2 separate regions of the Homo sapiens genome follow, and region 2 is linked to region 1. A link means that fine-mapping ties the variant in region 1 to the expression of a gene that starts in the linked region. Tissue or cell type: whole blood. Region 1 holds a variant in brackets; the other region holds the start of a gene. All regions are shown on one strand. Distances are between the middles of the regions.

Region 1 (5,384 bases):
GAAAATACATACCTTTTCTAAATGTAGCACGAGTAGTAAATCAAATAATAACGATGAAAGTAATTTTGAAGACATGACAACCAAAAGAGTTTCTGCTAGATTGACTCAGAAGTATAATCCTTTACATACTGAGTTCAGTTGCACTGCTCTAATTAATTGAGAAGCACTAAAATTTGAATGTGTTATTTGCAGAGATATACTGGCTAATGTAAGCAATTCACCGTCAAACTATAGGCAACATGCATACGCAACTCATAAAGACACACATTCACAATGAAAAGAATTGTTTGAAAGAAGGAATATTGAATTAAAAAGTTAATGGAAGAAGATGTTCAATATTTCATATATGAAGAGTGAGTAGTACTTTTCAGGCTTCTTATCAAGTAGCACTTTGCATGACTAGGACAAAAAATTAAATTGTGGTGACATTAGCAAAAAACTTCATAAAAAATGTTTGCTTGGAAATGATGGGGGAATCTTGAGCAAAGAAGATACTGTGAAGACTGTTTTCCAATGAAACTATAGATTAATGTATTTTAAAACTATCTAATTATGTGGAAGACCAATTTATGGTACAAATAAAGCCAGCAAACTATTTTTTAATGAAACCTGATGCACAGGTAACGCTAACAAAGCAATTCTTTTAGTATATGTGTTATTTGAGCATGATGGTAATATGAAAGTAGAATTTTTTTTTCCAACTTCATTACCATAAACAGAACTCAGAACTGTATAAAATGATGATAGATTACACTGTCTATGTGGTTTGGAGATTAGGGGTAGAAGTATTTTTGATGCACAGATGTAATGACAGGTAAGCATTCTGGAGTAGTTAATCCAGAGAAAAGAGCTGGGCCAGAATATAAACCAACATGCTGTTCCTTCATTGAGAAAGTCTTGCTATCAAACAAACAAACAAAAAAACCAGCTGAACCAATAGTGTCTTAGCAGCATAGTTAAAATTGTGAGTTACATAAAGGATTATGTGTTAAATGTGAGGCTATTCTGTGATCATATGGAAGCTAATCATAAACAAGTGGTGTTGTATGATGAGGTATGATGGTTGCTGAGTGGAGAATTCTGCAGAGAATAAACATTCTCTGCAAACACCAACTCCTGGTATTTCTGCAAGATAAGAAACTAATTTGGTCCCAGCTTTTTAAAGATGTCAGAATTGCTAACTTTTATGATATTCCCAATATGTGAAGTTATCTCACTAATTTCACGCGAGGATGAAATGAAGTATTTTCAAATGCAGATAAGATGGAATGGCAAAATGGCAAAACAAGATGGAAGACTGGAAGGACAAAGTTTCTGCAGATGGTTATGGCATGTTTCATAATTTCACAATTATCGATAGCATAGATGAAGACCTGGAAACTGCACAACTGCAAAATGTTCTCAGTAAATGATTGAAAGTAGATGAGCTTTGTGCAGGCAGAAATCTACTGTACAACTGGCAAGGGCGCCATGTGGAAGAAGTGCTTGGCTCACTGGGGGGTCTGAATGTAGATTTGCACAGAATTTTTGAAGGGCAATTTGACAGTGTATATCAACATTTTAAAAGTATGTAATTTTGAAATATAATTTACAGAGAAGTGTATAAGACAGAAATGAAGAGCTCAGTGATTGGTCACAAAAGGAACACCCGTGTAACTTCTACCCAGGTCAAAATAACTAGTAGTATTTCACTTGTATTAATGGCAATCCATTTTGCCTTCTATTTGTCTAGTTGGAAAACACTCTTCCATTAACAAATCCAGTTTTTAAAATAACTGTAACTGAAATTCTGGCCAGTTCTATATAAACATTGCATTCCTTTGAAAAGTTCAATGGTTAAAAGAAATCAAAGTATTAAAAGGAAAAATAAATAAATACCAGCCGAAAGGTTTATAGGGGTAGTTGTCTGTGAAGAAGAAAAGGTAAGTTCTCACTGGAGCAGGAGTTGTGGGGTTGCAGAAAGTGGGTACAGCAAGAGTGGAGGAGTGAGAGGAAGGCTGGTGTGGAAATGGTCTGGCAAAGCATTTTAGAGAAGCGGTGGGGCTCAGGGAAAGCCCAGTGAGGCTGGATTTCAGAGTGGTTGGTAACAAAATTCCAAATTTGTGAAAACATAACTCTGAGTTTTAAATACAGCTGATCCTTAAATGATGCAGGGGTTAGGGGTGCCTACCCCCTGCTCAGTCAAAAATCCATGTGTAACTTTTGACTCACCCAAAACTTAACTACTGATAGCCTTACTGATAACATAAACAGTCAATTAACACATATTTAGTATATTAGATATATTATATACTATATTCTTAAAGTAAGCTAGAACAAAAGAAAATGTTATTTAAAAAATCCTAAGGAAAATCCATTGACAGTACTCTACTATATTTATCTGTATTGTAAGTTAACTGTTTACAAGGTGAATTGTCTTTCTGAAATGGCAACCATAGCTGCAGACCTCAATCCACAGTACGTATCAAGCAATCTAACTTTTTCTTGTAATGTCATGAATTTTCTCTGCTTCTTGAGACACTTCCAGCATCACTAGGGGCACTTTGTATGGATTCCATGGTGTGAGTCAAGGTTTACAGTATTGAACTAAACATAATGAAAGCTATGTGAGAACCATGAGAGATCACATGTACTGTGGTTCCAATGGTCTGCAGGGAGAAACTGCTCACCTGGAGATGA[C/T]CTGCATCACTTGAGTTAAGCAGATACTCACGACAGTTGAGCTCCCCACAATAGCAACAGGAGGTGGCTATGAAGTTTTTACAGTAGTACAGTATATACCACAGTTCATTTGGTGCATTACGATTTAATACTGCATCTTATATTTGTTTACATTTCTCTTGACTGAATTGTGTCATCTACCGTCTGTAAGTGTGTGCATAAGTTTTTATAAATTTTAACATATTATAATGGACTCATTTTATGGTAATAAATGATAAAATGGACCAATATCGACGTATATTTTATACATTTATGACATACTTAACTTTCTTAATTTTTTCATTATTTTTAAGCTACATGGTTCACATCAAAGTTTTTTCAAATTGTTGGAAATGTAGAACACATTTTCTAATGTATTTATTTTAAAAACCCACATAGAAGTGGACTCATGTAGTTCAAATCTGTGTTGTTGAGGGGTTAACTGTTTATCAAATGATCCCTCCCACCAGCCCACACACTGAGGATACATGCCAAGTCTATCATATCTAAGTCTCATTCTCATTCCAGCTTGTTATATTTGAGCAAGCAGCCAGGTGGTCACAGGTGTTAGGACTGAGTAGAAAAATAATCTGGAGCATGGACCACAGAGGCTGTGCTTTTTATCTAGTGCCTAAAAGAGTCTACTGTCCATATCAGTGGCAATGTATTAAATTACATTACAAATTAGTAAACAAATGAAAAAAAAGTCAAACTGTTTAAGCCAAAACATTCAGCCTTTTGGAAAGATAACAAAAATTCAAACATGTTTCCTTAGGGTCCTACTGTGAGCTAGATTAGAATTTTGTAAATTAAAATTAGAATAATACAGGCACCTCAATTTGTTATGTTTTAACAATGAAAATAAAGAAACTGCTTATTAAATTGTTCTTTAGTGAATGTGAGTTTGTATTGTAACTCTATGACATATTTCCTACTCTATAGAGAGAAGATCATAAACCCATAAATGTCTGTCCTTGAAAGCAGAGAGAGAACATGTGCTTCATGATAGCACCAGGCCAGACTGCATCTGTGAAGAATATAGAAAAGTTTGCAAAGGTGTATCCCTTCATTGGGTATGTAAAACACCTCTACCTGTTAATGTCATTAACTGCAGTTTGGGTCACTCCAAAGCATATTATTTCTAGACAGACAACATACAGTGTCTTTAGAATGTAAACACTGGACAACACAGCAAGACCCTGTCTCTACAAAAAATTAAAAAGTTAGCTGGGTGTGGTAGCATGCACCTGTAGTCCTAGCTACTCAGGAGGCTGAGGCAAGAGGATCTTTTGAGCCCAAGAGTTTGAGGCTGCAATGAGCTATGATCACAACACTGCACTCTAGCCTGGGCAACAGAGTGAGACCCTGTCTGTATATTAAAAAAAGAATATAAAGACTGGATCTAGATAGAATTGGCTTTATGTATTACACATATCAGATAAAAAAACCTTCAAAAGGTACATTTTTATAAAATTATTTTTGTGCTAAACAGTATAAAATGTATCATCTTAACCATTTTTAAGTGTGAAGTTCAGTAGTGTCAGCTATTTTCATATTGTTGTGCAACAGATTTCTAAAAGCTTTTTCATCTTGCAAAACTGAAGCTCTATACCTATTAAACAGCAACTCCCCCTCTCCCCTTTCCCCAGTCCCTAGCAACAATTCTGCTTGTTTCTAAGAGTCTGGTTTCTTTAAAACCACATTTAAGTGGAATCATGTAGTATTTGTCTTTTTGTGACTGTCTTATTTCACTTAGCGTAATGTTCCCAAGATTTGACCTAGAACAAACTGCTGAATGTGCTTATTACAGTATCTGTATGCCTTTTGGTGGGAAAATGTTGAAAAAAAAAAAAAAACAAAAAAAAAAAAGACAGCTGGTAACACTGCAATGCCCAACGCCCAATTCCAAAGCTCCTTAAATATTCCTTGCAGAGTTAATGTTTTGGAGCAGTGCTTCTGGCAGGCCTCTTCTCACTTTTTGTTTTGTTAGGGGGCAGTTGATGGCATACCTAATATATTCAACATCCCCGATCCTCTATAGGGCAAGATTACCTTCTGTAATAATCAGTAATAATGATTCTCTTGATTTGTTCTTTAGTTTTATAACAACTACTAAAAGAGTATACATTTTAAAGATATTTCACATATGAAATAAAATTTGTGTTAACAACAAAAATATATCTCACAATTTGCCCTACTTTACTGTTTCCAACTTTATTATTTTTTTCCTTTTATTTTTTGAGATGGAGTCTTGCTCCGTCACCCAGGTTGGAGTGCGGTGGCATGATCTCGGCTAACTGCAACCTCTGCCTCTCAAGTTTAAGTGATTCTCTTACCTCAGTCTTCCAAAGTAGCTGGAATTACAGGCACATGTCACCATGCCCAGCTAGTTTTTGTATTTTTAGTAGAGATGGGTTTTTGCTGCGTTGGCCAGGCTGGTCTCAAACTCCTGACCTCAGGTGATCTGCCTGCCTCAGCCTCCCAAAGTGCTGGAATTACAGGCATGAGCCACCGCACCTGGCCTGTTTTCAACTTTAAATACAAATGAAAACGCTAAGAGGTCACAAAGACTGACATGATTGAAGTAACTCAGGTTTTGCTTCTTCATCTATAAGGCTGTGCCATCATTGCTGATGTCAAATCTACCATCTCAATGCAGGAATGTGTTTATCACTTGAGCCGGATTC
Region 2 (5,384 bases), 22 kb after region 1:
GTCCGGAATTTGTTCCTTCTGATGTTCGGATGTGTTTGGAGTTTCTTCCTTCTGGTGGATTCGTGGTCTAGCTGGACCAGGAGTGAAGCTGTAGACCCTCATGGTGAGTGTTACAGCTCTTATGGTGGCCCATCTGAGTTGTTCATTCATCCCGGTGGGTTCGTGGTCTCACTGGCTTCAGGAGTGAAGCGGCAGACCTTCGCAGCGAGTGTTACAGCTTATAAAGGCAGTGTGGGCCCAGAGTAAACAGCAGCAAGAGTTATTGCAAAAAGCGAAAGAACAAACCTTCCACACGACAGAAAGAGACTCCATAGGGTTACTACTGCTGGCTCGGGCAGCCTGCTTTTATTCCCTTATCTGGCCCCACCCACATCCTGCTGATTGGTTCACTTTACAGAGAGCTGATTGGTCCGTTTTGACAGGGTGCTGATTGGTGCATTTACAATCCCTGAGCTAGACACAAAAGTTCTCCAAGTCCCCACTAGATTAGCTAGACACGGGGTGCTGATTGGTGCATTTACAAACCTTGAGCTAGACACAGAGTGCCCATTGGTGCATTCACAATCCCTTAGCTAGACATAAAGGTTCTCCAAGTCCCCACCAGACTCAGGAGCCCAGCTGGCTTCACCCAGTGGATCCCACACCCAGGCGCAGGTGGAGCTGCCTGCCAGTCCCCGGCCCTGCGCCCGCACTCCTCAGCCCTTGGGCGGTCGATGGGACTGGGCGCCGTGGAGCAGGGAGCGGCGCTCCTCAGGGAGGCTCAGGCATGGCAGGCTGCAGGTCCCGAGCCCTGCCCTGCGGGGAGGCAGCTAAGGCCTGGCGAGAAATCGAGCACAGCAGCTCCTGGCCCAGGTGCTAAGCTCCCCCCAACTGCCCGTGGCCAGCGGGGACGGCCGGCCGCGCTGAGTGCCGGGCCCACCGAGCCCGCCGAGCCCACGCCCACCCGGAACTCGGGCTGGCCCGCAAGCGCCGTGCGCAGTCTCAGTTTCCGCCGGCGCCTCTAGTCTTGCTTCCCTCCAGTCCATTCTTCATGCTACAGGAAGAGTGAGTTTTCTGGAATACAAATCTAATCACAACCGTTCCCAGCTCAAAACCTAGCAGTACTCTAGTACTGGTGCCTCAGACTAAAATCCAAGCCCCTTGCTTCCTGAGGCAGAGATGAGTGTACGTGAATTTTTAAAAATAACCATACAGAAAAACAGATTCTTTGGGATGTGCAGTTCTGCGAATTTTTATTTTTATTTATTTTTTTGAGGTGGAGTCTTGCTCTGTCGCCCAGGCTGGAGTGCAGTGGCACGATCTCGGCTCACTGCAACCTCTGCTTCCCGGGTTCAAGTGATTCTCCTGCCTCAGTCTCCCAAGTAGCTGGGACTACAGGCGTGTGCCACCACCCACGCCTGGCTAATTTTGTATTTTTAGTAGCCACGAAGTTTCACTATGTTGGTCAGGCTGGTCTCGAACTCCTGACCTCAGGTGGTCCGCCCACCTCGGCCTCCCAAAGTGCTGGGATTACAGGAGTGAGCCACCGTGCCCGGCCTTCTGTGAATTTTAACACATGTATAGATTCTTGTGGCCACTGCCATCTATTAGTCCCCAAAACAACCTCATGCTATCCTTTCATAGTCGTACTCTCCCTCATCCCTACCCCTATCTTTTTAAGAAGGTCAAAGAAATGGAATGTGATCTTTTGAAAAACAAAAACACCCAAGCCCCTTAGGGCGTTTTTAATGCCCTTGCCTACCTCTCCTCCCTGTCCTCCAACAACTGCCCTCCCAAGCCCCACAATGCAACTCGCCGGAACTATGCTCAGTTCTTGGGGTGCTCCAAGCTGTCCTCCACTTAGCCAAGCTCCCCACCCGCTTCCGGGGGTGGGTTTCCACTGTGCACAACAGTACCTAGCGCTTCCCCCACTACAGCCCCCTTTCACGCTGTGGTAATTGCCAGGTTATCTGCCTCTCCCATTACAGTTCCTTCCTCACAGGGACCGCGTTTAAACCACGGCGGTATCCCTACCGCGCAGGATGGGCCGAGCCCCGCACGCCCCGAGGCAGCACCCCGCACGCAGTAGCCGGGCGTCGAGGCGTTCCCAGCCCACACCAGGCGCGGACCTACGAAGGCGGAGCGAGCATGCGCACTAGGAAGGGGCGGGGCGGGGCGCGCGCGATCCCCCGCCCCCTGCACGCGGTCCCAGGAGGGGCGGGCCTTGGCCGCTCGCTCTCCCCTCCCCCATGCCGCTGCGCTTGCGCGCTGGGGACAACCGTTGCTGGGTGTCCCAGGGCCTGAGGCAGGACGGTACTCCGCTGACACCTTCCCTTTCGGCCTTGAGGTTCCCAGCCTGGTGGCCCCAGGACGTTCCGGTCGCATGGCAGAGTGCTACGGACGACGCCTATGAAGCCCTTAGTCCTTCTAGTTGCGCTTTTGCTATGGCCTTCGTCTGTGCCGGCTTATCCGAGTGAGTGACGGGCCTGAGGAGGCAGCGGACCGGGGACACCCTGGGGGAACTTCCCGAGCTCCGCGACCTCGAAGCCTGGCCCTTCCTTCTCCCTGGTCCTACATGCCTCCCTCCCCCACTGTCCGGGGTCCTGGCCTCGACGCCGAGGGGTGTCCCTCTCCTCTCCTGGTCAGGGAACGCAGCAACTGAGGCGGCGCGGCCCAGATGAGACGGGAAGCGCCTGCGGGCCGTGGGCGCGGGTGGAACCCCCTCACCTCACCGGAGGCCTTCCTCTGCCCACCCGATCCTTCCCCAGCCATTGGGCGTGTGACCGTGCAGGGGTCGTGTGACAGCTGCTGGCCAGCTAGGAATGATTTTTACATTTTCTTCCTTTTTTTTTAATTATTATACTTTAAGTTCTAGGGTACATGTGCACAGCGTGCAGGTTTGTTACATATGTATCCATGTGCCATATTGGTGTGCTGCACCCATAACTTGTCATTTACATTAGGTATATCTCCTAATGCTATCCCTCCCCCCTCCCCCCACCCCACGGCAGGCCCTGGTGTGTGATGTTCTATTTTTGCATTTTCAAAGTAAATATGAAATGTACTCTTTCATGACTTGTGGAAAAGCATGACGCTCACATTTCATTGTTCGTGAATAAAGTTTTACTGGCACACCACCACGCTCATTCCTTTACGTATTGCCCATGGCTGCTTTCCCACGTTAGAACAACGGGGTTAAGTGGTTGCCACACAGTCTGGTCTGCAAAGACTGAAGTATTTACTCTCTGGCCCTGTACAGAAAAAAAGGTTGACCCGTACGGTAAAATTTGGAGAGCATGTGGATTGTGGGTCGCGGTCTGGGACACTCACCTGAGGATGCGCTCCCAGAGAGCATGCTTGCGCACACGGCATTCAAAGCCTTAGTTAAGCAGGATTATAACTTAAGACCTGCCAAGGAGCAATTTTTGTCCCTCCCCGAAAGCTGAAAACCAATAAGGTCAAATTCAGGGGTGCTAAGACTTTACTATATTAACAATATCATGTGGGCACCTTAAGGCACTTAGTATTTAAGTCAGGTAGGTGAGGCTTCCCCATTTAGTCTAACTGTAGTTCATTGTGGCATTTAGTAATGTTGGAGTTTGGTTTCACTTAAATCAATAAATACAATTTAACAGGTGTAAAAAAAGCGCTATCGTGCATGCTGATTATGCAAATCTATTTTTCAGAATTGCTAAACGATCTTAGTTAAAAATCAAATTTAAAAACTGAAAATACAACACAATCTAAATTATGAATAGTAATGGGAAAAGTTCTAGATGAAGTTCTAGGTAACTAAAGTTAGCTCTTTAAATACTAGCATTTATGATTTGTAGCTGTTTTTAATAAAAAGTTTTGTAAAATTTTTCTTCCTTGACATAGAGGACCAGAACATAATGAAGATGCTACTATCTTTTCTTGATGTCTGATGATCATTATTACTAACACCAGTTATTGCATTTTGGTAGTTGTAGATCAGCAAGTCACAAGTGACTAACATATATGGAGACTTTAACTGAAGTGACTTTAACACTGTCACACAGTACACTCTGGGACTGCTAGGTAGGAGTCCCTGGACACCCACTTAACTCAGTGCAGTCTCTTGCCTAACACCATAATTTTCCCCTCCCCCTCCCCTTCCCTTTTCCCCCCCTTTTTTTTTTGCCTGAGACAGGGTCTCACTCTCTAGCTCAGACTAGAGTGCAGTGGCCCGATCTCGGCTCACCGCAACCTCTGCCTCCCAGGCTCGAGGGATTCTCCCACCTCAGCCTCCTGAGTAGCTGGGATTATAGGCGCACGCCACTACCGCCTGGCTAATTTTTGTATTTCTAGTAGAGACGGGGTTTCACCATGTTGGCCAGGCTGGTCTCGAGCTCCTGACCTCAAATGATCCATCCGCCTCGGCCTTGCAAAGTGCTGGGATTACAGGCTTGAGCCACTGTGCCCAGCCAGCCTGTTGTCTTTCTTAGCACCCTATTCCCTAATCTTTCTTGGGAAGAAAGAAAAGGGTTGTAGGAAATGAAAAGACGCTTCCCAGAAAAAAGGAGTGATTTTGTGTTGAATATATAGATGTTATAAGACATAAGGAAACTATATACAGGTTGTAATCATAGAAGATGTCTTGGAATATGTAATTACCTTTCTTCTACAGAAGTGGATTAAGGAATATATAGAGCAGGCAGTGGTACATGGCTGCTTTCTCTGTATCTGTCTCTCTACTTTTTCTCTAATTTTAATTTTGTTTTTAAAATAAGTATACCAAAATGCGTATATCATTGAGCTTGATGTAAATCAGCTATGCATTCTTTTATATGGCCACTATTCAAACAATTGTTGGCGAGATGCAAAAGATAAGGTACATAGGTTTTTATAATGAAAAGTGCAGCTTTGACACATTTTTTCTAGACTACTAGACAGTTTTGAGGTTATTACGCAAACATCACGGGTGTATTAAGTAATTGCATTTATTGAAAACCTCAGTACTTCTTGTATCTGCCTATACCTTTCTAACAGGCCCAATCCAAGCTTAGCTAGTATTTGTTTAATCTAAATTCAGTTAGACATAAATGCAGCTTGGGTATACAGAAGTCGGCACTCCTTTACATACACACACACACATCCTGATGGTGCTGGAGAAACAACGTTTTACTATATAAAATTTTTATACATTCAGTTTCCTCTACCTGATTTTTCCATAGTTTTAAATACTTTGCCATTTTTAAATTTTTGAATGGGAAAGTATTTAATGTATTCCCTCTTTAATGTATTTGCACTGTGCAACTTACTTTACTTTTTAATGAGAATTCTTTTTGCTTTAAAAAAAAAAAAATGCACAGGCCGGGCACGGTGTCTTACACCTGTAATCCCAGCACTTTGGGAGGCTGAGGCGGGCAGATCACCTGAGCCCA

What was found.
Region 2: it holds the start of SPESP1, and the variant in region 1 is fine-mapped to the expression of SPESP1 in whole blood (INTERVAL, PIP above 0.99).

What each region holds. Positions count from the first base shown.
Region 1 is chr15:68,906,570-68,911,953 of GRCh38, forward strand. No RefSeq gene overlaps it. Among named protein-coding and RNA genes, the nearest start is that of SPESP1, 21 kb to the right of the region's middle. The variant C/T (reference allele first, on the strand shown) is at 2,680.
Region 2 is chr15:68,928,266-68,933,649 of GRCh38, forward strand. It overlaps SPESP1 (sperm equatorial segment protein 1), which reads left to right and starts at 2,260. Exons shown (of 2, transcript NM_145658.4): 1 at 2,260-2,452. The coding sequence starts at 2,389. SPESP1-NOX5 (SPESP1-NOX5 readthrough) reads left to right here and starts at 2,260. Exons shown (of 17, transcript NR_033672.2): 1 at 2,260-2,452.